2 linked regions of the Homo sapiens genome follow. The gene in region 1 interacts genetically with each later gene. Each region holds a gene or a part of one and is shown on either strand. Other genes may lie near its edges. The genes, in order: RAB6A and EIPR1.

What was found.
Region 2: changes in RAB6A (region 1) and EIPR1 are lethal when combined (synthetic lethality), as found in Homo sapiens cells (one study listed by BioGRID).

The regions. Positions count from the first base shown.
Region 1 is NC_000011.10:73,754,593-73,770,583, forward strand, and holds the start of RAB6A (ras-related protein Rab-6A), read right to left. Parts: upstream 6,483-15,991; 5' UTR 6,044-6,482; coding exon 5,974-6,043; intron 5,504-5,973; exon of another isoform or gene 5,456-5,503; intron 1-5,455. UniProt on the Homo sapiens protein: The small GTPases Rab are key regulators of intracellular membrane trafficking, from the formation of transport vesicles to their fusion with membranes.
Region 2 is NC_000002.12:3,372,166-3,382,356, forward strand, and holds the start of EIPR1 (EARP and GARP complex-interacting protein 1), read right to left. Parts: upstream 5,654-10,191; 5' UTR 5,525-5,653; coding exon 5,483-5,524; intron 1-5,482. UniProt on the Homo sapiens protein: Acts as a component of endosomal retrieval machinery that is involved in protein transport from early endosomes to either recycling endosomes or the trans-Golgi network.

The sequences.
Region 1 (15,991 bases):
TGGAAAATAGTTCTTTTTCATTTCAGAAATGATGTTAACATGAAGGCTGGGCACAGTGGCTCATGCCTGTAATCCCAGCACTTTGGGAGACCAAGGCAAGCAGGTCACTTGAGGCCAGGAGTTTGAGACCAGCCTGGCCAATATAGCAAAACCCTGTCTCTACTAAAAAGTCAAAAAATTAGCCAGGCATGGCGGCATGTACCTGTGGTCCCAGCTATTCAGGAGGCTGAGGCATGAGAATCGCGAACCCGGGAGGCACTCACTCCATCCTGGGCAACAGAGGGATGCAGTCAAAAAAAAAAAGGGTATTAACATGCAATGGGTTTATTATTATTATTATTATTTTTTTGAGATGGAGTTTTGCTCGTTGCCCAGGCTGGAGTGCAATGGCGTGATCTTGGCTCACTGCAACCTCCACCTCCCGGGTTCAAGGGACTCTCCTGCCTCAGCCTCCTGAGTAGCTGGCACTACCACTGGGACCGTCCACCACCATGCCAGGCTAATTTCTTTGTATTTTTAGTAGAGACGGGGTTTCACCATATTGGCCAGGTTGGTCTCAAACTTCTGGCCTCAAGTGATCCGCCCACCTCGGCCTCTCAAAATGCTGGGATTACAAGCATGAGCCACCACGCTCGGCCCTATTATTTTTTAACATATTAAATATTTTGAAATTTTCTTTTTCAATACAGTAAATGTTGATATATTTATTCATTTATTTTGAGATGGAGCCTCACTCTGTTGCCCAGGCTGGAGCGCAGTGGCACGATCTTGGCTCACTGCAACCTCCACCTCCCGAGTTCAAGCAATGCTCCTGCCTCAGCCTCCCGAAGAGCTGGGACTACAGGCACGCACCACCATGCCCGGCTAATTTTGTATTTTTAGTAGAAACGGGGTTTCGCCATGTTGCCCAGGCTGGTCTCGAACCCCTGACCTCAGGTGATCCACCCACTTCGGCCTCCCAAAGTGCTGGGATTATAGGCGTGAGCCACCGCACCCGGCCTAAATGTTGACATAAACTACATAAACAAAAGTCAGGCACAGTGGCATGTGCCTATAGTCCCAGCTACTAGGGAGGCTGAGGCAGGAGGAGAGCTTGAGACAAGGCTGCAGTTGGCCATGATAGCCCCTGTGAACAGTCACTGCATCCAAGAAGGGGGAAGGAAATGGGAAGAGGAAAGGAGGAAGGAAGGGAGAAAAGGAAAGGAAGGGGGAGGTGGAAAGGGGGAAGGAAGGGAGAAGGGGGAAGGAAGAGAAAGAAGAGGAGGAGGAGGAAGAAGAACAAGAGGAGGAGGAGAAGGAAGAGGAGGAGGAAGAAGAGGAGGAGGAGAAAGAAGAGGAGGAGGAGGAAGAAGAACAACAATAACAACTACATTAACAGAGCTCTTCAGGATCCTCAAAAATTTGTAAGAGCAGAAAGGGGTCTTGGGGAAAAAAAGTTTAAAAACCACTGATCTAGCCAATATAAAATGTTCAGTACTGGCCAGGCGTGGTGGCTCACACCTGTAATCCCAGCACTTTGGGAGGCTGAGGCCGGAGGATCTCGCCAGCTCAAAACTTTGAGACCAGCCTGGGCAACATGGTAAAATCCCATCTCTACAAAAAAATACAAAAATTAGCCAGGCGTGGTGGTGCGTGCCTGTTGTCCCAGCTACTTGGGAGGCTGAGGTGGGAGGATCACTTGAGCCTGGGAGGTGGAGGGTGCAGTGAGCTGAGATCACACCACTGCACTCCAGCCTGAGTGACAGAGGTAGACCCCGTCTCAAAAGAAAAACAACTGGTCAGTACTGCTAGTCTCTGACAATAAGACATTTTTTCCTTATCTAACATATTGCAATTTGATCAGCATTGATGGAAAAAAAGAAAAGGCAATATAAAGTGAAAAAAACAGTAGTAGGCTGAGTATGCGCTTCTCTCTGCCATTACATCTCCTAATTTATAATTGGTAACATGTATATATAGTGAAATCTTCTACTGTAAACCACTGAGTGACATTACTAAAACTGCCTCTGCATCTCAAGACAATAGCCAGAGGTAGTAACAAAACAGACTCCTCAAGGAAACTTCCAATTGTGTATTTCAACATTCCTTTATTTATTTATTTAGAGACAAAGTCTCGCTCTGAGGCCCAGGCTGGAGTGCAGTGGGGCAATCTCAGTTCACTGCAACCTCCACCTCCTGGGTTGCAGTTTTCCTGCCTCAGCCTCCTGAGTAGCTGGGATTACAGGCACACGCCACCACGCCCAGCTAGTTTTTGGATTTTTAGTAGAGATGGGATTTTGCCATGTTGGCCAGGCTGGTCTTGAACTCCTGACCTCAGGTGATTTGCCTGCCTCGGACTCCTAAAGTGCTGGGATTACAGGCGTGAGCCACCACGCCCAGCCAAACATTCCTTTATTAAACCGTAAGAATTTATCTAAGGTTAAGATTGATGTCATTAACTCAATCTGCTTCATGTACTGACACAATTCATTTTCACTATAGAGCGTAGTATCTTAAATATACATACATATATATATATATATATATATATATATATATTTTTTTTTTTTTTTTTTTTTTTTTTTTTCTTGAGACAGAGTCTCACTCTGTCACCCAGGCTGCAGTGCAATGGCATGATCTCAGCTCACTGCACCCTCCGCCTCTCAGGTTCAAGCGATTCTCCTGCCTCAGCCTCCTGAGTAGCTGGGATTACAGGCTCCCACCCGCCATCATACCTGGATAATTTTTGTATTTTTGTAGAGACCGGGCCATGGGGTGGGGGGGAGCCGGGGACTCCACCATGTTAGCCAGGCTGGTCTTGAACTGCTGACCTCAGATGATTCACCTATCTCAGCCTCCCAAAGTGCTGGGATTACAGGCATGAACCACCGCACCCAGCCTAGTATCTTAAATTTTTGATAAGCCAAATAAAACCTAATTTCAAATCAGTTCCATGAGCACATCATTGGTATAATTTGAATACTTTTCATGCGTTACATTAATAGCAAATAATTTAACAACTTTAATAAAGGAAGACGAATTTTGCTCAACTCAAAAAAAAGTACAAAATTCAGGTCAGTCCTATTTTTTGAATGAAATGGTTGGGCCTCTAAACGATTGGTTTCTCTACCCCCTTAAGTATCTGATATATTCCTGTATACAATCAAATGATGTAAGTTTTAAGTGTTATTGTTAAACTATCAATTGCGTAACCATGTCAAAGAGTGTAACATAGGCTACTAGCTTTCGTTACTACTAGATTCAGCCATCATTCATTTACCCAACATGTCTGAACAGCTACTATGAGCCTGGCTCTACGCTAGGCAATGGGGACACACTGAACAAAAAAGAATAGTTTTTATCTTCATGGGAGTTGCATTCTTCTGTGGGAAATAAAAACAAACACATAAAAAATAAGATAATTGTAAATGTGGTAAATGCTATTAAGAAGAAACAAGGCTTTGCCATAGATTACAGTCTTTGAAAGCTGAATTGTGGAATTCTAACAGACCTAAAAATAAATAATTCATGAAGAGTTACATCAAAAGGACATGGAGTCTACAGACTTCTAACGCATAAGAAAACTATAGACACTGACCATGAAAACAGAGATCAATCTTTCATTGTCAAAGCTAATGAATGGCATTACTTGACAATATAGTAACCTCAAAAGATAATTAACTTCACATCCTGAATTGAATGCTGAAACAGAAAAAGGACATTAGGTTAAAACTAAAAATCTAAATAAACTATGGACTTAAGTTAATAATAACATATCAATATTAGTTCATTAATTGTTAACAAATGTGCCATACTAATGCAAGATGTTGATAACAGGGGAAACTAGATGTGTGGGTATATGGGAACTCTACACTATCTTTTCAATTTTTCTGTAAGTCTAAAACTGTTCTAAAAAATGAAGTCTATTAAAAAAAATCTAACCAGGCTTCAGTAATGGAGGGGGGAGGGTAGTAGAGGCTTAAACAAGGTACGAAATTAGAAGCCATAAAACTCTCCATTATGCATTAGAACATACACAAATACTCAAGAAATTCAAAGGAAACCTGAAGATACTTAGGAAGTTAAGCACTCCATTCATGCTAAAACCTTTTTAGGCAGGAAGATGAATAGGTTTTTTCATGCAAACTAAATAGCTGTGCATCACAACATAAGGAAGGCAATAATATCCTTAGAATGCACAATAAGCACTTTGGATCCTTTTTATCAATAATAACCAATAAACTATATTTTATGTTTGGGAACTATCCTGATATTGACACAGAAAAGCTGGACTAGAAGCAACTCCATAGGTTCTACCAAGTTACTCACCTAAAGACACAAGTTTATACTTACTTCAGGAAAATATATAAGCAAAAAGGAGGGAGATTGTATTTTTCCCCCCAAAAGGGAGGAGGGGAAGATAATCTACACATGAAAGGAGAAAAATGATTTCCCAGTTCTAACTGGAGGCAATTTTGCAAGAGTATTAACCTCTGTGATGGCATACAAATTAGTATAAATAGTTCAAAGTAGTAATAAAAGCTACGAATTTATATCACTTACATGCCTTCCAGTCAAAACAAATAACTAATGTTTTCTATAACCTCACCTAAAACACCTAGTAGGTACTCAATGTTTGATGACTCAGAACTAATCTCTCAATGTCTGAATTTTAAAGATGGGCATGCAAAGTATGAGAAAAACAAAGGAGGGTAATCATCTCTGAATTGTCGAGTGTCAAGTTTGTATAATACAGCATAAAACTGGAATTACTACAAGAAGTAATCGTAGATACAACCATCACAAAATTAGGATCTAGTATCTAATACAAAAGTACAGTGACAGCAGAACCTGACCAGGTAAATGACATAACAATTTCACTCATCAGACAGTACAGAATATTAAGCATAAAAGAATTATTTAGCCCAAATGGTATTTAAATCTAATTTAGGTAACTAGATGATGAGTCTGTTCCTACTCTACTCCATTTTCCAAAGGAAATCCGACAAAACAAAGATGTTTGTTATTCCAAGCCTTCTCTCACATGAATCCTCAATATATCATTGGAAAATACTCAAGAAGGAATGAATAATTAACATTTCCCCAGTAATTCCCTTTTGTACCACCATGAGACTCAGACGCTGCTTCATGTTGAAAAGAGAAAAAGGGGAGGTGAGATGAGAAAAATTCCAAGTAAAATGATCATGACATAGCATCTGGCAGAGATTGAAAAATCATCAACATTGCCAAAAGAATTGTCAGTGATGAAAGTCAAGAGAACAAAATGAGGTTTTCCGACAAGCCACAGCCCCATCTAACCTAAGGGGCAAAAATCTCCACTGCCGACGCTACCCCTTTCACCCCCAACCACCCCATGCTCAAGTCGTCTCCAATTCAGATGTTTCCTCTATGGCCCAGACTAATTTCCCACCCAGGTGAAAATCATTTAATTTTTTCTACTACCACCCCTTCCCACCTTCCACGACATCAGCACTTCGCAGGGCCAAGCCTCTGGGGAAAACAACGCCCAGATCCCACCCTCCTTGGCCAAGGTTGAAGAGGGCCCGCTCTCGGGAGTGGGGCTTCCCTGAGTGGGCCTCACAGAGCTGAGGAACTGGGAAAAGAGCAAGGAATAAGGGTGGGGCTCAAGAAAGGGGGCCGGGGTACGGGCAATGACCGAGACCGGAGGAAGAAAGGGATGGACAAGAGGCTGGGCGGGGTGAGGTCTGGGGAGGGAGGGCAGATCGACCGGAGATGGCCGGACTGCGGGGAACGGAGCCGGGGAGTCGAGGATTGAAGAACCCGGGGAACAGGGTAAAAACTCGGCCACTGGCGAAGAGCCAGTGGCACCGGGGGGCACATCGGGAAGGGCTGCGGTGGCAACGAGCGCGGACGCGAGGCGGGCAGGGAGCCTCCGCGGACGGAAGGGCCGCACCGGGGGCGGTGCGGGGACGCTGCGGCCAGCTGCCAGGAGTAGGGGAGCCACGCACTCACCGCTTTGCTCCCCCAGGAACACCAGCTTGAATTTCCTCAGCGGATTCCCGAAGTCTCCGCCCGTGGACATTGTGGAACTAGAGGAGCGGCCGCCGCCTCAGCCTAGAGACCTCCCGGACCGATGCTGCTCCAGCCAGCTGACGAAAAAGGCGAGCGGAAGGGCGGGCACCGAGCTCTCTCGGCCCCTGCAAGGCCCGGTGGAGGAGCCCGGCTGGAGGGCAGCAGGACTCTCCACAGACTGGCAGCCGCCGCCGCCTCCCGGCAGAGTAGCCTAGCACCGAGCGAGGCCCGCGGCTGGGAAGGGAAGGAGGGCGGTGTCGGCAGGAGCCAGGGGTGTCCTCTGGCTTCCCAAAGCTAGGGCCGTTCCCTCCTTCCGCACTCGGCTCCCAGACCTGGGGAAGAGAAGCTGAGGGTGGCGGAGCCGGAACCGCAGACGTATCTGGGACCTCTCACGCGCAGCGCCTGAGCTTCCACAGCTGCCGCCGCCGCCGCAGCCCAACCTGCTGAGTGCGCGAGCCTCTGGAGCGGCGCGGGGCGAGCCCGGGCGCGAGCCTGCGGCCCCGCCGGCCGCTGGCGTGCGTGCGTGCGTGCATGCGTGCGCGCCACCGCCATCGCCATCGCCTTCCTGGTTTGGACAGCTCTACCGGCTCCTCCCGCACGGCGGCGACGGGGCAGGTTAGGTTTCCACTGGCGTCAAAAGAAGCCAGGAGGAGGCGGGGCAAGCCAGGGATAAGTTAGTGGGAGGCTGGAGCCCTTACGTCACTTACATAATGAGCCAATCGGAAGGGGCTGAGGGCGAGCCCACACGCGAGTGAGGTGGCAGCGTGAGAGCGCGCGCAGCCCTCGAGCTGTGGAAAGCGGAGCACTGTGGCGGCCATAAGAAGTGTGGCGCCTCTCAGCCTGAGGGGAGGGGAAGGAAAGAAAGGGGAGGGGGAGAAGGGTGGGGCGGAGGCGGGGCCGGGACAAAGGTGGAATATGATCCCCCAAAAAGTGTGGGTGGGGTCCTATAGCCTTAAAATTTGTAATGGGAGCCTCTTTCCTGAGCCCTCAGCCGTGCCTCACAGTCCTCAGATCCCTTCTTCACCATTGCACACACCCCACCTTCTCCATCCTCTCATCATAATTCCTCACAGGCATCTTACTAAATAACATTCTCCTCCATTGCTCCCAGGAATGTTATAACTGCCAGAATCATGGCCTCCCAATTTTGCAGATGAGGAAACTGAAGCTTAGAGGGAGTAAATGACTTGCAAAATCCATAAAGCGGGCTGGGCGCGGTGGCCCACGGCTGTAATCCCAGCACTTTGGGAGGCGGAGGCGAGTGGATCACGAGGTCAAGAGATCGAGACCATCCTGGCCAACATGGTGAAACCCTGTCTCTACTAAAAATGCAAAAATTAGCTGGGGGTGGTGGCGCGCGCCTGTAGTCCCAGCTACTCGGGAAGCTGAGGCAGGAGAATCGCTTGAACCCGGGAGGCGGAGGTTGCAGTGAGCCGAGATCACACCACTGCACTCCAGCCTGGCGACAGAGCGAGACTCCATCTCAACAGAAAAAAAAAAAAAAAAAAAAAAAAAAAGCCGGGCGTGGTGGCTCATCCCTGTAATCCCAGCACTTTGGAAGGCTGAGTTGGGTGGATCACCTGACGTCAGGAGTTCCAGACCAGCCTTGGCCAACATGATGAAACCCCATCTCTACTAAAAATACAAAAAATTAACGTGGTGTGGTGGCGGGTGCCTGTAATCCCAGCTACTTGGGAGGCTGAGGCAGGAGAATCGCTTGAACACGGGAGGCGGAGGTTGCAGTGAGCCAAGGTCACACCATTGCACTCCAGTCTGGGCAACAAGAGCGAGACTCTGTCTCCAAAAAAAAAAATCCATAAAGCAGCTGGGCGCGGTGGCTCACGTCTGTAATCCCAGCACTTTGGGAGGCCGAGGCGGTAGAATCGCTTGAGCCCAGGAGTTCGAGACCAGGCTGGGCAACAAAGCAAGACACTATCTCTACAAAAAATAAAATAGCCGAATATCGTGGTGTGCTCCTGTAGTTCCGGCTACTCAGGAGCCTGAAGCAGAAGGATTGCTTGAGTCCAGGAGTTGGAGGCTGAGGTATGGCACCACTACACTGAAATCTGGGTGACAGAACAAGTCCCTGTCTTAAAAAAAAAAAAAAAAAACAAAAAAACTTTCTAAGTGAATAATAAAAAATATGTCCTTACATTTGTGTCTATACACAAATGTATATCATTTGTGTATATCATTCACAAAACATTTATGTACTTTTTCTCATTATTGGGGAGTTATTTGCTTAGCTGTAGAAATGACAGGATTGAAAAAGTGCCTTCTCAGGCCCAGGGATGAATTGCTGACCTAGAATAAATTACAGGGAAGAACCAAAGTTCTTAAAATATCATCTATTCTGGCCTATCAAGACAACAGCTATATCCTCAAACCATCTCTATCAAAATTTACTCCCTTCTGGTTCCTCTCCCAGCCATGTGCAGGTAGAACATGCATCTAAAATAAAATGGTAAAAACCTGGCTTGTAGCATGGACATTTGATTTTACAAGTAGTTTGTCAGATCTAATAGGGTCCTCTCCACCATTAACCCAGAACCCTGGCACATACAAAGAGCAGCTTAAACCAAGAAACTTTTTAAAAAGATTATGCAAACAAAAGTGAGTAGCTATTTTCTTTCTGATGGGTACCAAGTTTTCATTATGCTTCCTGAAATAGACTTTAAAGTAACATCTGAGGATTGGAACTATAATTACTTTGTACTTCCTACAGAACTTTATGAATCAGTCCTCCCTGCTGCTTTGGTCTCTGTAGTCACCTAGACAGGTGGTACTGTTCCCTGTCATTTTGAAGGGCCTTATGGTCTAGTCCACCTCTTACCTAAAATGTTTTAATGTTTTAAGCTTTCATTTTGCATTGACACATACACAGCCTCATTATCCTCTGAAGCTGCCTTCATATTACCAAGTACTCTGTGTAAGTTTTGTCTTCAGAGACTTTATGGCCTAAACATTGCATATTAAGTGCTGTAGGGTATAGCAAATGGAAAAATTACTCAGGAGAAAGAGGAATTAGAGAGGCCCTTTTCAAGAGTATTTTCACCAACATTTTCACCTTCATGATTTCCTACGCTCACTTCTCTTTACTGCAAACACTCTTCCCCTCCCTTCCCCACTCTTCCCCAATTCCTACTCATCCTTCAGTTAAAGAAATTGTCTTTTTTTTTTTTTCTTTTAAATCACTTACCACTTAAAGAAGTTGTCTTTGTCCATTCAGGCTGCTATAACAGAATACCATGACTGGGTGGCTTAAACAACAAATGTTTATTTCTCACAGCTGGAGACTGGAAAGTCCAAGAGCAAGGTACCAGAAGATACTGTGTCTGGTGAAGGCCCACTTCCTGGTTCATAGACAACCATCTTCTCACTGTGCCCTCACATGGCAGAAAGAGAGCAAGAAAGCTCTCTGGGCTCCCTCTTACAAGGGAACTAATCCCATTTATGAGCACTCCACCCTCATGACCTAATCACCTCCCTAGGGTCCCACCTACTAATACCATCACATTGGGGACTATAGTTTCAACATATGAATTTTGGGGAGACACAAACATTCAGTCTACCACACAAGTCTTGCTCCCATCTGCTCCCATCCCCACTAACAGTATAAGTACCTTTGCCTGTCCTATTGTATCCTATTCTTAATTGCTGTTCATTGTCAGTGTTCCCTACTTGACTGTAACCTCCACGAGGTCAGATCTCATCTTGTATCCCCAGTGCTTGAAGAGTGCTTGCTACATAGTAAGCATGCAGCAGATGTTTGCTGACAAAATCAAATAAAAGAGGAATTATTTTTCACTGTCTTCAAAGGATGAATGGGATTTGGGCATGCAGAGAAGGAAGGTTAAGAGCATTTTGGAGAAAGAGAACATTACCCAAAAATATGTCATGTAATTTGATACTTCTTTCCTAAACCATTACTTATGAAAAAGATGCTGAGAACAGATCTTGTAACTAAAAATTAGGAACAATGGGAGAGGACAGTCTTCACAGCTCCAAATTCAAAGTACCTAAAGCAGCTTTCATTATCTATTTAAAGGTCATATCTAAATTGAAGCCCAGGAGTATGTAGGGAATCTATCACACAGAAATTGTAATAAAATTATAGCTTATCTTCTGCCCTGAGAGACACAAAACTTCTTGCAGGAGGACTGAATTTTTTTTTTTTTTTTTTTTTTGAGACAGAGTTTTGCTCTTGTTGCCCGGGCTGGAGTGCAATGGCGTGATCTCGGCTCACCGCAACCTCCGCCTGTCGGGTTCAAGCAATTCTCCCACCTCAGCCTCCTGAGTAGCTGAGATTACAGGCATGTGCCATCACGCCCAGCTAATTGTGTATTTTTACTAGAGATGGGGTTTCTCCATGTTGGTCAGGCTAGTCTCGAACCCCCGACCTTAGATGATCTGCCCATCTTGCTCTCCCAAAGTGCTGGGACTACAGGCGTGAGCCACTGTGCTTGGCTGAAATTTCTCTTTTTCCTTTTTGGAGACAGAGTCTTACTCTGTCCAGGCTGGAGTGCAGTGGCCGATCTCGGCTCACTGCAACCTCCACTTCCTGGGTTCAAGCGATTCTCCTGCCTCAGCCTCCTGAGTAGCTGAGATTACAGAAGTGTGCCACCATGTCCAGCTAATTTTTGTATTTTCAGTAGAGACGGGGTTTCACCATGTTGGCCAGGCTAGTCTCAAACTCCTGACCTCAAGTGATCCTCCTGCCTTGGCCTCCCAAAGTGCTGAGATTACAGGCGTGAGCCACTGCGCCCAGTCAATTTCATCTTATTCTTAGTGACAGACACTAGTGGTTGCATATCCAGCAATGCACACATAACACACACACATACTTCCACCATATATACTAGAAATGACAGATGTGTTTCCAGCCTCCCTTCAGCTAAGTTATAGGCACATGAGTCCATCTGAGCCAGTGGGAGATGAAGGAAATGTGCTAGAGGCTTTTTTTATTCTAAGAGAAGAAGAGAGATAGAGAGACATATTTTCTTCCTTGATGAAAAGGAATAAATGAGAAAAAACTGCCATTTTTCTGCCATTGATGTAGCTGTGTAAGGACATGATATTTAGAGCTAAGATAGCTCTTCTGAACATTGAAGCTCTGCCTCCCGGGTTCACGCCGTTTTCCTGCCTCAGCCTCCCGAATAGCTGGGACTACAGGCGCCTGCCACCATGCCCGGCTAATTTTTTTGTATTTTTAGTAGAGATGGGGTTTCACTGTGTTAGCCAGGATGGTCTTGATCTCCTGACCTCGTGATCTGCCCGCCTCAGCCTCCCAAAGTGCTGGGATTATAGGCGTGAGCCACCGCACCCGGCCGAACATTAATATATAATTCTAATGAAAAAAGCCAATCATTGATGACGGCTAAGCAGAAAGCTAAAAGGCATCATTGAGCCGCTGTACCAGCCCTGGAACTGGCCGCCTAGATTTCTTTTTAGTAACATAATAAATGTCTTTATATTTAATAATGCTTTTATGTGTCTTTGTATTTCTTTGTTATTGTTACTTGCAGCTCACATTCTCATATTTAGATCCCTTAAAACACCTTGCATAGTTCCTTGAATATTAGGCACTCAATATTGTATGTGTATATATAAAGTAGTAGTTACCACACTGGAACTGCCTTTTTCTGTTTACTACTCCCTAAAAAGGGATTTATTACTGTTGGAGAGGCAGGAAATCAATAGAAGGAGAAAAACTGTACAGGTAAAAGGACTGAAATCATATTGCTCACATTTGAAACAAATAATAGCTCTGGCAGGAATTCAAATTCCATCAAATGCAAAGCCCTTCTAACCCACACTGCAGGTTATTATAATCATTGCTACTAAAAATAATAATGGGTCAATATACAAAGCATAAAAATGACAAATGCTCAGTAATTCAAGGTGACCAGTTAAATGAGTACAATTAACACAAGGTATGTTGAAGTAAGTCTCATTTTTAAAAGACTACAAAAAATAAAGGGGGAGACGAGTCATGTTAAAACCTGTTTTCCAAATACTTTGACCTATAAGGACATGCCATGGGAGAATAAAGATTATTCAGTCAAAGTGGAGAAGGTGTTAGAACTTAAATGGAATGGTCCTTCCTGTAATTATAGCCAATTAATAGCTAAGTCAGAAGATATTTTTGCTACGGATTGATCTACAGAATCTATTTTTGATAATTCCATTTTGTTCTGTTCATGTGAATCATGGTCCCCATTATGAATAATGTGATTTCTCAAAGCCTTGTAAGTGAGGTGTTACTTCCAGGCTTTGAAATTGCAGTGGGGGAAGAACTTGCTGCTTTTTATGCTAGTCCAGAATGTATAAAATCTGACACATTGCTGGAGCTCTCCTCTCCCCACACTCTATCCCCCACAAATAATAAAGTCTCCTCTAAGATGTACAAGAGAATGAATCACTCCACCTGCTACTAAGTGATAATCACTCTCAGAGTAGAAGAGAACAACTGCCTCTACTGCTGTTTATATAAAGAACAGAGCATCTTAGGATAGAAAAGTGAGACCAACACTGTTTGCACTGAAATACCAACAGACTGCACAGCCAAATTGTAACTTGCCAAAGAAGCCAAGAGAAACTATCTTTCTGTGAATATTTCTTCGGCTTTTCAATTAACACAAAGTAACTAGGACTTTATTTTATATAAAATCAAAAGATATCAAAATAATTATAGAAGTTGTAGCTCAAACTATGAAGTGAGATAATAAGCCCCAACATCACAGGAAAAATGAAAAAACTACCGGTTTTAGGAAGATAAAGATGTTCTGTCTTCTCTCTCTGAAACCATTCCAAAACGAGAATAAAGAAATTAAAATGCAAACTCTGGATTTGACATCTGTAACCCAGAGCCATAATATTTTAAGATGGGGGACAAAGATAGAGCAATGGTAACTGACTAAACAGAACATATAAAGTGCTTACTGAAGGATGAATTAACAAGAAGCAAGCCAATCAGCTAAGCGGAACTGCAGAAATTCTGCTCAGGAATGTGAAATACCAGGTACCATATAAGGTAGGGGGTAAAACGAGGACAAAAACAAGGGAATTGTATCAAGGACTGTATGAACAGCATTTTAAACCCATCCCTTTCTATGGTGAAACTGAATATAAGAAGCTCTCAGCAGCGGGGCGCCGTGGCTCACGCCTATAACCCCAGCACTTTGGGAGGTCGAAGCGGGGCGGATAGCCTGAGGTCAGGAGTTCGAGACCAGCATGGCCAGCATGGTGAAACCCTTACTAAAAATACAAAAATTAGCCGGGCATGGTACCAGGCACCTGTAATCCCAGCTACTTGGGAAGATTGAGGCAGGAGAATCGCTTGAACCCAGGAAGCGGAGGTTGCAGTGAACCGAGATCGCGCCATTGCACTCCAGCCTGGACAACAGGGTGAGACTCCGTCTCAAAAAAAAAAAGTTCTAGGCTCAGTTAACCAGGCATAGTAAAGTACCAGGGTGAGGTGCTGCCAAAAGACAGGGGAATTGATAAACAACCATCTCTTCCCAAGCATCTTCCATAACAACGGCAGGCAGTCTCATATGCCTAAAAAAGAGACTGAGTTTCGCCCTTGTTGCTCAGGCTGGAGTGTGGAGTGCAATGGCGCGATCTTGGCTCACTGCAACCTCCACCTCCCGGGTTCAAGCAATTCTCCTGCCTCAGCCCCCCGAGTAGCTGGGACAGGCGCATGGCACCATGCCCAGCTAATTTTTTTATATTTTTAGTAGACACAGGGTTTCACTGTGTTAGCCAGGATGGTCTCGATCTCCTGACCTCCTGATCTGCCCACCTCAGCCTCCCAAAGTGCTGGGATTACAGGCGTGAGCCACAGGGCCCGGCCCACATTAATTTCTAGACCAGCCTGGGCAACATGATGAAACCTCATCTCTACCAAAAATACAAAAAATTAGCCAGGCATGGTGGTGCACTTCTGTGATCCCAGCTACTCAGGAGGTTGAGATGGGAGGATTCCTTGAGCCTGGGAAGTGGAGATTTCAGTGAGCCGAGATCATGCCACTGCACTCCAGCCTGGGTGACAGAGCGAGACTCCGTCTCAAAAAAAAAAAAAAAAATCCACCAAAACAAAACAAAACCAATTCGCATTATTTTCATCAATAAAGACAAAAAATTTCCAAATCACTTTTCATACCAACTGTCTTCCTGGCTTTACCTGACACGCTGTTATTGCTGTTGTCCAGATCGGAGATTATCAAGGACAGTGTGCAGTCTTTCCAGAGGAGGCTTGCAAGAACACCTACATCGTAGCTGTAGTCCAATACAGACAACAAAGATTACAATAGGGTTGACATGTGCCCTTTATATATATACTCCACTATCTTTTGATGAGGGAAAAAAACAAACAAAAAAAAAAAAAAAACAAAAAAATAAAGAAAAAAACCCCACAGTTTATTTGCTATGTGATCCATTTACTAACATTATCATTTCAGAACCTTTCAGCTGGAAGAAACAGAAAACTCAACTCTAAATAATTTAAATGGGCGGGCTCTGTGGCTCACATCTGTAATCCCAGCACTTTGGTGCGGCCAAGGCAGGAGGATCACTTGACCTCAGGAGTTAAGAGACCAGCCTGGCCAACATGGTGAAACCTCGTTTCTACTAAAAATACAAAAATTAGCCGGGTGTGGTGGTGAGCGCCTATAATCCTAGCTACTAGGGAGGCTGAGGCAGGAGTGTTGCTCGAACCCGGGAGGCGGAGGTTGCAGTGAGCCAAGACTGCGCAACTGCACTCCAGCCTGGGCAACAGAGGGAGACTCCATCTTAAAAAAAAAAAAAAGTTTCAACAATAGGGCAAATCACATAAAGAAGTCCTGGCCGGTGCAGTGGCTCACGCCTGTAATCCCAGCACTTTGGGAGGCCGGGATGGGAGGATCACGAGGTTAGGAGTTCAAGACCAGCCTGGCCAATATGGCAAAACCCCCGTCACTACTAAAAATACAAAAATTAGCCGGCCGGGCGTGGTGGAGCACGCCTGTAATCCCAGCACTTTGGGAGGCCGAGGCGGGCGGATCACGAGGTGAGGAGATCGAGACCATCCTGGCTAACATGGTGAAACCCCGTCTCTACTAAAAATACAAAAAAAAAAAAAAAAAAAAAAAAAAAAAATTACCCAGGCGTGGTGGCACGCGCCTGTAGTCCAATGTAGTCCCAGCTACTTGGGAGTCTAAGACAGGAGAATGGCGTGAACCCGGGAGGCGGAGCTCGCAGTGAGCGGAGATCGCGCCACTGCACTCCAGCCTAGGCGACAGAGCGAGACTCTGTCTCAAAAAAAAAAATTAATAAGTAAGTATAAAATAAAATAAAATTAGCCAGGCGTGGCGGCAGGCGCCTGTAATCCCAGGTACTCAGGAGGCTGAGGCGAAAGAATCGCTTGAACCTGGGAGGCGAAGGTTGCAATGAGCCAAGATCATGCCGTTGCCCTCCAGCCTGGGTGACAAGAGCAAGACTCCGTCTCAAAAAAAAAAAAAAAAAAAAAAGGGAAGTCCGAAGCTTCCAGGACTGGTTAATTCCCTCCTACCCAGCAATGTCTACAAGAACCAGGTTGTTCTGTCTTTCTGCTCTGCCTTTCTCAGTGTATTGACTTTGCTCTTAGATGCTAGCTTCCCCAATAATCACAAGATTGCTGCTATAGTTCAAGCTGACACATCTATATCCTATAAAGTCCAAGGAAAGGAGATGCCATCTATGTATCTCTGTAAGTAAAAAAAAAAAAAAAAAAAAAAAAAAACATTTCCCAGAATCCCCCAGCAAACTCCCCATTACATCTCACTGGCCAGAATTGCTTCATATCCCCATCCTAAATCTGTCACTGCAAGAGAAATGGGATTACTAAGACTGGGATAGATAGATCTATGGCTGTGTGGAGAAAGATAGATTTTTGCATTAAAATTGTAATTTTGTTATGAGGAAAAGATGAAATATAATA
Region 2 (10,191 bases), on another chromosome or scaffold:
GATGTTCTTTGAAACCAATGAGAACAAAGACACAACATACCAGAATCTCTGGGACACATTCAAAGCAGTGTGTAGAGGGAAATTTATAGCACTAAATGCCCACAAGAGAAAGCAGGAAAGATCCAAAATTGACACCTAACATCACAATTAAAAGAACTAGAAAAGCAAGAGCAAACACATTCAAAAGCTAGCAGAAGGCAAGAAATAACTAAAATCAGAGCAGAACTGAAGGAAATAGAGACACAAAAAACCCTTCAAAAAATTAATGAATCCAGGAGCTGGTTTTTTGAAAGGATCAACAAAATTGATAGACCGCTAGCAAGACTAATAAAGAAAAAAAGAGAAGAATCAAATAGACGCAATAAAAAATGACGAAGGGGATATCACCACCAATCCCACAGAAATACAAACTACCATCAGAGAATACTACCAACACCTCTACGCAAATAAACTAGAAAATCTAGAAGAAATGGATAAATTCCTCAACACATACACTCTCCCAAGACTAAACCAGGAAGAAGTTGAATCTCTGAATAGACCAATAATAGGATCTGAAATTGTGGCAATAATCAATAGCTTACCAACCAAAAAGAGTCCAGGACCAGATGGATTCACAGCCGAATTCTACCAGAGGTATAAGGAGGAACTGGTACCATTCCTTCTGAAACTATTCCAATCAATAGAAAAAGAGGGAATCCTCCCTAACTCATTTTATTAGGCCAGCATCATCCTGATACCAAAGCCGGGCAGAGACACAACCAAAAAAGAGAATTTTAGACCAATATCCTTGATGAACATTGATGCAAAAATCCTCAATAAAATACTGGCAAACTGAATCCAGCAGCACATCAAAAAGCTTATCCACCATGATCAAGCGGGCTTCATCCCTGGGATACAAGGCTGGTTCAATCTACGCAAATCAATAAATGTAATCCAGCATATAAACAGAACCAAAGACAAAAACCATATGATTATCTCAATAGATGCAGAAAAGGCCTTTGACAAAATTCAACAACGCTTCATGCTAAAAACTCTCAATAAATTAGGTATTGATGGGAAGTATCTCAAAATAATAAGAGCTATCTATGACAAACCCACAGCCAATATCATACTGAATGGGCAAAAACTGGAAGCATTCCCTTTGAAAACTGGCACAAGACAGGGATGCCCTCTCTCACCACTCCTATTCAACATAGTGTTGGAAGTTCTGGCCAGGGCAATTAGGCAGAAGGAAATAAAGGCTATTCGATTAGGAAAAGAGGAAGTCAAATTGTCCCTGTTTGCAGACGACATGATTGTATATCTAGAAAACCCCATTGTCTCAGCCCAAAATCTCCTTAAGCTGATAAGCAACTTCAGCAAAGTCTCAGGATACAAAATCAATGTACAAAAATCACAAGCATTCTTATACACCAATAACAGACAAACAGAGAGCCAAATCATAAGTGAACTCCCATTCACAATTGCTTCAAAGAGAATAAAATACCTAGGAATCCAACTTGCAAGGCACATGAAGGACCTCTTCAAGGAGAACTACAAACCACTGCTCAATGAAATAGAAGAGAATACAAACAAATGGAAGAACATTCCATGCTCATGGGTAGGAAGAATCAATATCGTGAAAATGGCCATACTGCCCAAGGTAATTTATAGATTCAATGCCATCCCCATCAAGCTACCAATGACTTTCTTCACAGAATTAGAAAAAACTACTTTAAAGTTCATATGGAACCAAAAAAGAGCCCTCATCGCCAAGTCAATCCTAAGCCAAAAGAACAAAGCTGGAGGCATCACGCTACCTGACTTCAAACTATACTACAAGGCTACAGTAACCAAAACAGCATGTTACTGGTACCAAAACAGAGATACAGATCAATGGAACAGAACAGAGCCCTCAGAAATAATGCCGCATATCTACAACTATCTGATCTTTGACAAACCTGACAAAAACAAGCAATGGGGAAAGGATTCCCTATTTAATAAATGGTGCTGGGAAAACTGGCTAGCCATATGTAGAAAGCTGAAACTGGATCCCTTCCTTACACCTTATACAAAAATTAATTCAAGATGGAATAAAGACTTAAACGTTAGACCTAAAACCATAAGAACCCTAGAAGAAAACCTAGGCATTACCATTCAGGACATAGGCATGGGCAAGGACTTCATGTCTAAAACACCAAAAGCAATGCCAACAAAAGCCAAAATTGACAAATGGGATCTCATTAAACTAAAGAGCTTCTGTACAGCAAAAGAAACTACCAACAGAGTGAACAGGCAACCTACAAAATGGGAGAAAATTTTCACAACCTGCTCATCTGACAAAGGGCTAATATCCAGAATCTACAATGAACTCAAACAAATTTACAAGAAAAAAACAAAAAACCCCATCAAAAAGTGGGCAAAGGATATGAGCAGACACTTCTCAAAAGAAGACATTTATGCAGCCAAAAGACACATGAAAAAATGCTCATCATCACTGGCCATCAGAGAAATGCAAATCAAAACCACAATGAGATACCATCTCACACCAGTTAGAATGGCAATCATTAAAAAGTCAGGAAACAACAGGTGCTGGAGAGGATGTGGAGAAATAGGAACACTTTTACACTGTTGGTGGGACTGTAAACTAGTTCAACCATTGTGGAAGTCAGTGTGGCGATTCCTCAGGGATCTAGAACCAGAAATACCATTTGACCCAGCCATCCCATTACTGGGTATATACCCAAAGGACTATAAATCATGCTGCTATAAAGACACATGCACACGTATGTTTATTGCGGCACTATTCACAATAGCAAAGACTTGGAACCAACCCAAATGTCCAACAATGATAGACTGGATTAAGAAAATGTGGCACATATACACCATGGAATACTATGCAGCCATAAAAAATGATGAGTTCATGTCCTTTGTAGGGACGTGGATGAAATTGGAAATCATCATTCTCAGTAAACTGTCGCAAGGACAAAAAACCAAACACTGCATGTTCTCACTCACAGATGGGAATTGAACAATGAGAACACATGGACACAGGAAGGGGAACATCACACTCTGGGGACTGTTGTGGGGTGGGGGGAGGGGGGAGGGATAGCATTAGGAGATATACCTAATGCTGAATGACGAGTTAATGGGTGCAGCACACCAGCATGGCACATGTATACATATGTAACTAACTGGCACATTGTGCACATGTACCTTAAAACTTAAAATATAATAATAATTTAAAAAAAAAAGAGAGAAAAAAAAGAAAATAACATTTCAGTTAACCTCAAAGATACAATACTGAAGATAAAATCCTCTGGGTTTTTTGAGAGATTTCTTAAGGAGATCAAGAAGTTAAATTAAGTAGCACTGGCAGAGTATGCATCTTCAGGTAGTACAAGATTATAGAACCTTCTATCTACCCATGTGGTCTCTCCCTGTGTATCCCTATGTGTATCTAGTTAAAGAGAAAGCAGTAGAACTTAGCAGGTAAGGGGACTCGAGGTCAGTTTGGGTTGAAAGTCTAAGTAGGTCAGAATCCAAGGTCTATCATTTACTAGTTAAGTGGCCTTGGACAGGTAACTATTCTCTCTGAGGCTGTCTCTTCATCCGTAAAACAGGAACAATAACACCTACCAATAATGATTGCTGTGAGAATTAAATGAAATATTTGTACAGTGCTAAGCAGAGTGTCTGACACATAGTCCAGAGCTAAATCACTGGTAGTTAAGCTATCAGTCTTGTGAATGTGATATAGCCACTGGTCAAATCCTATAGCACAGTTTATTATACAGGACACTTAACTGCTGCCCTGTATAAAATTTATTTGTAAGAATTTTGTCTTAGGCAGGGTGCGGTGGCTCATGACTATAATCCCAGCACTTTGGGAGGCCAAGGAGGGCAGATCACTTGAGCTCAGGAGTGTGAGACCAGCCTGGGCAACATGGCGAAACCCCATTTCTACAAAGGAAAAAAAAGGAATTTTCTCTCATTATAACAATTAGAACAACAATTATTGAACACACTATGCACCAGGCACTGTTCTACGTGATTCAATTAAGTGTATTAACTCATTTAATTTCATAACAGCCATGAGGTGGGGGGGAGGGAGATGCATATTTTATTGGCAAGGAAACCGAGGCCCAAGGTCACATAGTTAATAAGTGCTAGAGGCAGGATTTAAAACTTAGGTGTCTGGGTGGCATATGTTATTCTACTAACACTGCTGCCTCTCTGACTGTAACCTACTTAAAAACAGACATTGGCCAGGTGCGGTGGCTCACGCCTGTAATCCCAACACTTTGGGAGGCTGAGGCAGGCAGATCACAAGGTCAGGAGTTCAAAACCAGCCAGGCCAAGATGGTGAAACCCCGTATCTACTAAAAATACAAAAATTAGTCGGGCGTGGTGGCGGGTGCCTGTAATCCCAGCTACTTGGGAGGTTGAGGCAGGAGAATCACTTAAACCCGGGAGGCGGAGGTTGCAGTGAGCCGAGGTCACGCCACTGCACTCTAGCCTGGGCAACGGAGCAAGACTCCATCTCAAAAAAAAAAAAAAAAAGCAGACATCATTTATATCTTTAACACATACTGCTGCACAAAATTATGTATCAAGTATTTCATATGGCAGTGAACTGTGTTTCTATCTCTCTATCTGTCCCTCAGTGCTTTAGGCATAACACATTCTCAAAAGCTACTTGAATAGATGAAAACCAGGACAGGGCTCTAACAGGCCCTACACAATCCTCATCTTCCTCCCCCGCTCATCTCATCCCCTACCTCATTCCCCCTGACGCATTTACTCTATCCACGGCAGCTTTCTTGCTGTCCTGAACTACCATGTGCATTGCTTATGCTCTGGGGGCTCATTCGGTTCATAGTCATTTGTTGAACACCTACTATGTGACAGTCATGAAAAGGCACTGGAAAATACAAGGTAAAAAACTAGTGTGAAAACAGTTGAATCCGAAGACAGTCTGTGGTTTACTGAATATTAGTGTACCAATGTTAATTTCTAAGCTGTGATAAATGTACGATGGTTATGTAAAGTGTTAACATTAAGGGAAGCTGGGTGGAGGGTAAAGAAGAACTTTCTATGTATTTTTACAACTCTTCTAAATACTTTAAATTGTTTCAAAATCAAACATTTTTATTTTAAACAACATACAGTTCCTACCTTCAGGAACTCAAATTCTAGAGGAAAAGGTGGGCGTGTAAATAAATGAGTCCACCAAAGTGAGTGATAACTTCCAGGTCAGAAGTCATGTTCGGGACAGGATGTGAAGGGGAAGGAGGCAGGCCGGCTGTGGCCAACCCTGTTATCCAGTACAACCGTTTAACCTCCTAAAGCCTCAGTTTACTTCTCTGCAAAATGGGAACTAGGGAACAGACACGGGTCCTTGCAGGGCTGGTGGGAGATCTGCAAACCGAAGTCACCATGGGACCGCGCATGCTATCAACAGCCAGGCCGAGCAGCACCTGCCGCCCTCCCAGTGACCCACCTGGAACTCCAGCCCGTAGATCACTGGTGCATCGTCCTCCATGCTGCGGGGAAGCGACCCGACCCCGGCCACTCACACGCTAAGGACCTCGCTACGGCCGGCGCGTCCCCACCTCGCGGGCGTGTTCCCAGCGCCCATTCATTCCCTCCCCGCAGCAAACGACTCCAAACTGGAAGTCTTTCTGGCCCAGAACAGCTTCCGTAGTGGCCACTTCCTATTTTTCGGATGTGTCATCAATCTGTTCCTCACCAGCGACCAATGGCAGCGGCGCTGGCTTGTGCGCATGGCCACTTGGGCTCACATCCGGGCTCTCAGCGCGGGGACTCCTGGAGGTGAGAACCCGGCCCAGAGGAAATAAGTTGGTGGGCGGAGCGGGCCGCGGAGGCCGGCTGTGGGTGGAGGCCGGCTCCGAGCGCAGGCCGTCGGGAGCAAGCGGCGATTAGCCTTAGCTAGCCATCGCATCTAAGAATCGCTCACGCCGTAGTTGGGCGCCGCCATGTATTGTCATTTGTATGTACTTGGCGTTCCTGAGCGCTGGGCCAGCGCTTCACACGCACTGCCATAAGGAGCTTCATCCAACCCTATGAATAAGCTGTTACACTTCCATTTTACCGATGAGACGCTGCAAAGTTGAGTAACACAGTCGCAGCGCTCATTGGTCCATTGGGTAGCCAGGATGGGCACCTGAGCTGACTCCCTTAGGTTCGGCCCAAGGTGCCCTAAGTCAGGGCCATGCCTAATGCATTTCTGCAGGTGCCCAGCACTGTGTGGCAAAGAAAGCACTACCAAGGATGGGGTTATGAAAGCCGGCACCGCACCACTGGTGGTCCTGGACTGCATATGCCTCCGAATGGGAGTCGGAAGGGAAGGCCCTGGGGTTCCTAGAGGTCTCCAAAGACTAAAGACTTGTGGTGGAGAGACTGCCCCTCTTTCGCATCCTGCTCAAAGTGCCTGCCCTGGCCTTGGGCCAGCAGAAATGGCATCGCAAGGACTCCAAAATACATCATAGCTGAACCACGCCGCTAGCCTGGTTCCACCGGGGCTTCCAGGACCACGCACCTTTCCTCCATTTCTGTGATTAGCTTTCCCCTCTACCCTTTATTGATCTCCGTGACGGAAATGGTTGGGTCTCGTTTTGCTCAGTTGGGCAAGGCGCGTGGTATTGAGTTAAGGCTGGATGAGTATCTGTTGAGTGTATGAAATTTTAGAGATTACATGAGAAATCAAATGAGCAGGCCGGGCGCGGTGGCTCACGCTTGTAACCCCAGCATTTTGGGAGGCTGAGGAGGGTGGATCACAAGGTCAGTTCGAGACCTGCCTGGCCAACACAGTGAAACCCCGTCTCTACTAAAAATACGAAACTTAGCCCAGCGTGGTGGCACGCGCCTGTAATCCCAGCTACTCGGGAGGCTGAGGCAGGAGAATCGCTTGAACCCGGGAGGCGGAGGTTGCAGTGAACCGAGATCGCGCCACTGCACTCCAGCCTGGGCGACAGAGCCAGAGTCGGTCAAAAAAAAAGAAAAGAAAAGAAAGAAATCAAGTAAGCAAAAACAAGAAAGAAAGAAATCAAGTAAGCAATGGCCCAGACATGAGAATCATCCTATTCAACCACTCTGTTTGCCGATATTAACTTGCGGAGCTAAGAGGGCCTTCATACTTCGGGATTAAACCCACCCATCTATCACTGATATCTTTATCATTAATTTTATTATACAAGTACTGCAGGTGCATGGTAAGAAACTTACAAAATACAGATAAACACAAAGACAAATCCATAGAAACACTGATTTCTAGGATATGCTGGTCAATAAAAATAGCCTAAGCGACTCCCTTTCACCCGCCCCATCTGCCACAGGCTTGCCTATTGCCTCTGAGTGACAGAATCAGGCTAGGTGGAGTGGAGTCTCCGTTCCCATTTCCAAGTACAGGGTCCGCTCCCCTCAACTACCGGCTCCTGGTTGCCTGTGCGCGTTCACACCTAGGGCTCCAGGCCCCGCCCACAGCAGACGAACCGGAAACGAACCCCATTTCCGGCCTGGGGGCAGGGCCTCGGGTTCCTGCATCGGGCCTGAGCAGAACTAGGCGCGCCGCGGCCCGGCACGCGCAGGCGTACAGAGCTCCCCGGGGGTGCCAGTTCCTCTCCGATTCCCGGCTTCTGTCACCTTCCTCACGGACCTTGGTCACGGCCGCAGGTGACCCCTTAGCCCAGCTCCAGTGGGCGGGTGGCAGGTGAGGATCAGGGCCTCGGCAGTCCAGAGGGGATGGGACCGTGTAGCGCCACCTCGGGGAGGGAGCACACTGGCTTTGGCCTCAGCCCGGAGGGACCTTCTCTGGGACCGATGCTAGAGTGGGCGTGGGGTCCGGGCGCGGGGTCGCCTGCCACCCAAGGGCGTGTGTGCTCCGCGGGCCTTGTGCCAGGCTCCACGTCGCCGCGGCCCTTGCTCTCCACGTCTGCAGAGGGCTGGAAGCGTCTCTGCAGCCCGCGGAGTTTGCGGGAAGGGGAAGCTGCTGCGAAGCGTGTGGGAAACTACCCGCTGGCGCGCGCCCAGGCGTCCCCGAGACCCCCAGTTCCAGGCTTGGTGCCAGCCAGGCCCCCAGCAAGCCCCTTAACTTCCCTTAGACTTAATTCACCCTCCCGCGGAAAGAGGTTACTAATGACCTGCCCTGCCAAACTCAGCATTGTGAGGCTGCAATGCAGTGTAAAAGCATTTGAGTCACTGTGTAAACGTCCGCTGTTGCTACACATACTAATTGTAGAGTATATTTACTGTGAAGACCGAAAAAGCGTTTATTCAACAGAAAGCGTTAGGGTCAAAGATGTGTTTTAACGTGTCATTTTTTCACTCTTCACTACGAAACAGTGTAGCCCCAAGGAAAAATTTTCTTGGACCTACGGTTTGTACTTTTTAATGGCTACTTGAAGATATGGTGTCTTTGGATTCAGTCACTGTTCGCAAATTCAGAAGATAGTGGCGGATAATGAGCCAGTCCCGTCTTGGGATTGGGGTGGGAGAGGGACAGGGGAAAAGCAAATGAAATATTACACAGTGTTACTCATTCAGTTCTTACATTTTGTGATATCTGATGGGATCTTCTTCACAGTTACTAAACTGGGTGTTGCCACTCTGCTTTATCATTAAAATGATAATTACTATGCTTGTGTCTGTGCAGCTCTTCACACTTTAAAAGATGCCTATGCAGGGGTGCCACTATTTAATCCTCTTTATTCTGATGTACCATCTAAAAGATCAAGATTTTCAGAGGTTACTTCACTTGGTCGGGAAGCTAAGACTCAACACAGTTATTGAGACACTGCCTTCAGAGCTCTTTCTGCCCACCCCTGCCTGGCAACCTTGCAAGAGGAGCTGAGAGGTGACCAGCACAAAGAAAAGAGTATTGGCAGAAAGCGCTGTGTGGGTAGCCTGTCACCATCAGGTACTGTCAGTGTGATGTTAGGCAAATCACTTGGCCTTCTCTGCTGTATGATGGAGGTAATAATAATGCTTCAAAAGTTTAGGATGAGTATTAAATAATAAGGTAAAATGCTTGATCTGTAGTGAGTGTTCATTACATGGAGACTTCTGTTAATACGTGCCACCTAGATTTCCACTACACACCCTCGTGCCCTTATGGAAGGAAATTTTACATGACTGCAATTTGGTAAAAGATATGTTTACAGAGTGTCTGTGTCCAGGAAATGAACCTGAGAAACCAAGTTTTAAATGTTGTTAGGAACTTTTTATTTCTCAAATACAGAATTACTTAAATTTAATATTTAAAAAAATTTTAAACAATTAATTAATCACATTCTTGTGCAAAGCCCTCAACTGGACAAGGAGAAAGTCAGATTTCTTTGCTGCACTGTGATGTAAAGCTTCTGTAAGCTTATGTAAGCTTAAAATCCTATTTATAGTTTAATAAAAATAAAGCCAATGATAGGAGGGAGTAAAGATTTCTATCACGTACAAATCAAGAACAGATACTTGTGTTTTTCCATTTTTAATTATGAACTATAAAGACTACCCGTAACACACATGTGAGATTTAAAGATCAAGTCAACCCAGTCTTCCATTACCAGCATAAGATGGGGACCATTTCCCAGTGCGTTGAAACTTCCGTGTGTCCCTCCCCAGTCAAGCTCTCCTGCCATCACCTTCCACCCCTCCCTCACTAAAGTGGCTGTTACTATATCCTGGCTTTTCTTTGTAGTTTGACCAAATATGTTTGTGTTCCTAACACAGAAAAAGTGTTTGGATTCAACACTTTTGTTTAATTTACATGTTTTTGAATATACAGAGTCATGCTGTTTATTTTTCTACTCATTCTTTGTGCAAAATTGTATTTGTGAGATCCAAACATAATTTATATGTTAGATATGGAAGAGTTCACTGATTTTCACCACTATTTTAATATTTTATGTCCTAGTATACCACAGTCTACTTATTTACTTATTATTGTGTCTACAGGCAGTGTTTATTTCCACTTTTTTTTTTTTTTTTTTTTTTTGAGATGGAGTCTTATTCTGCCGCCAGGCTGGAGTGCAGTGGCACGATCTTGGCTCACTGCAACCTCCGCCTCCTGGGTTCAAGTGATTCTGCTGCCTCAGCCTCCCAAGTAGCTGAGACTACAGGCGCCCGCCACCATGCCTGGCTAATTTTTTGTATTTTAATAGAGACAGCATTTCACTATGTTAGCCGGTATGGTCTTGA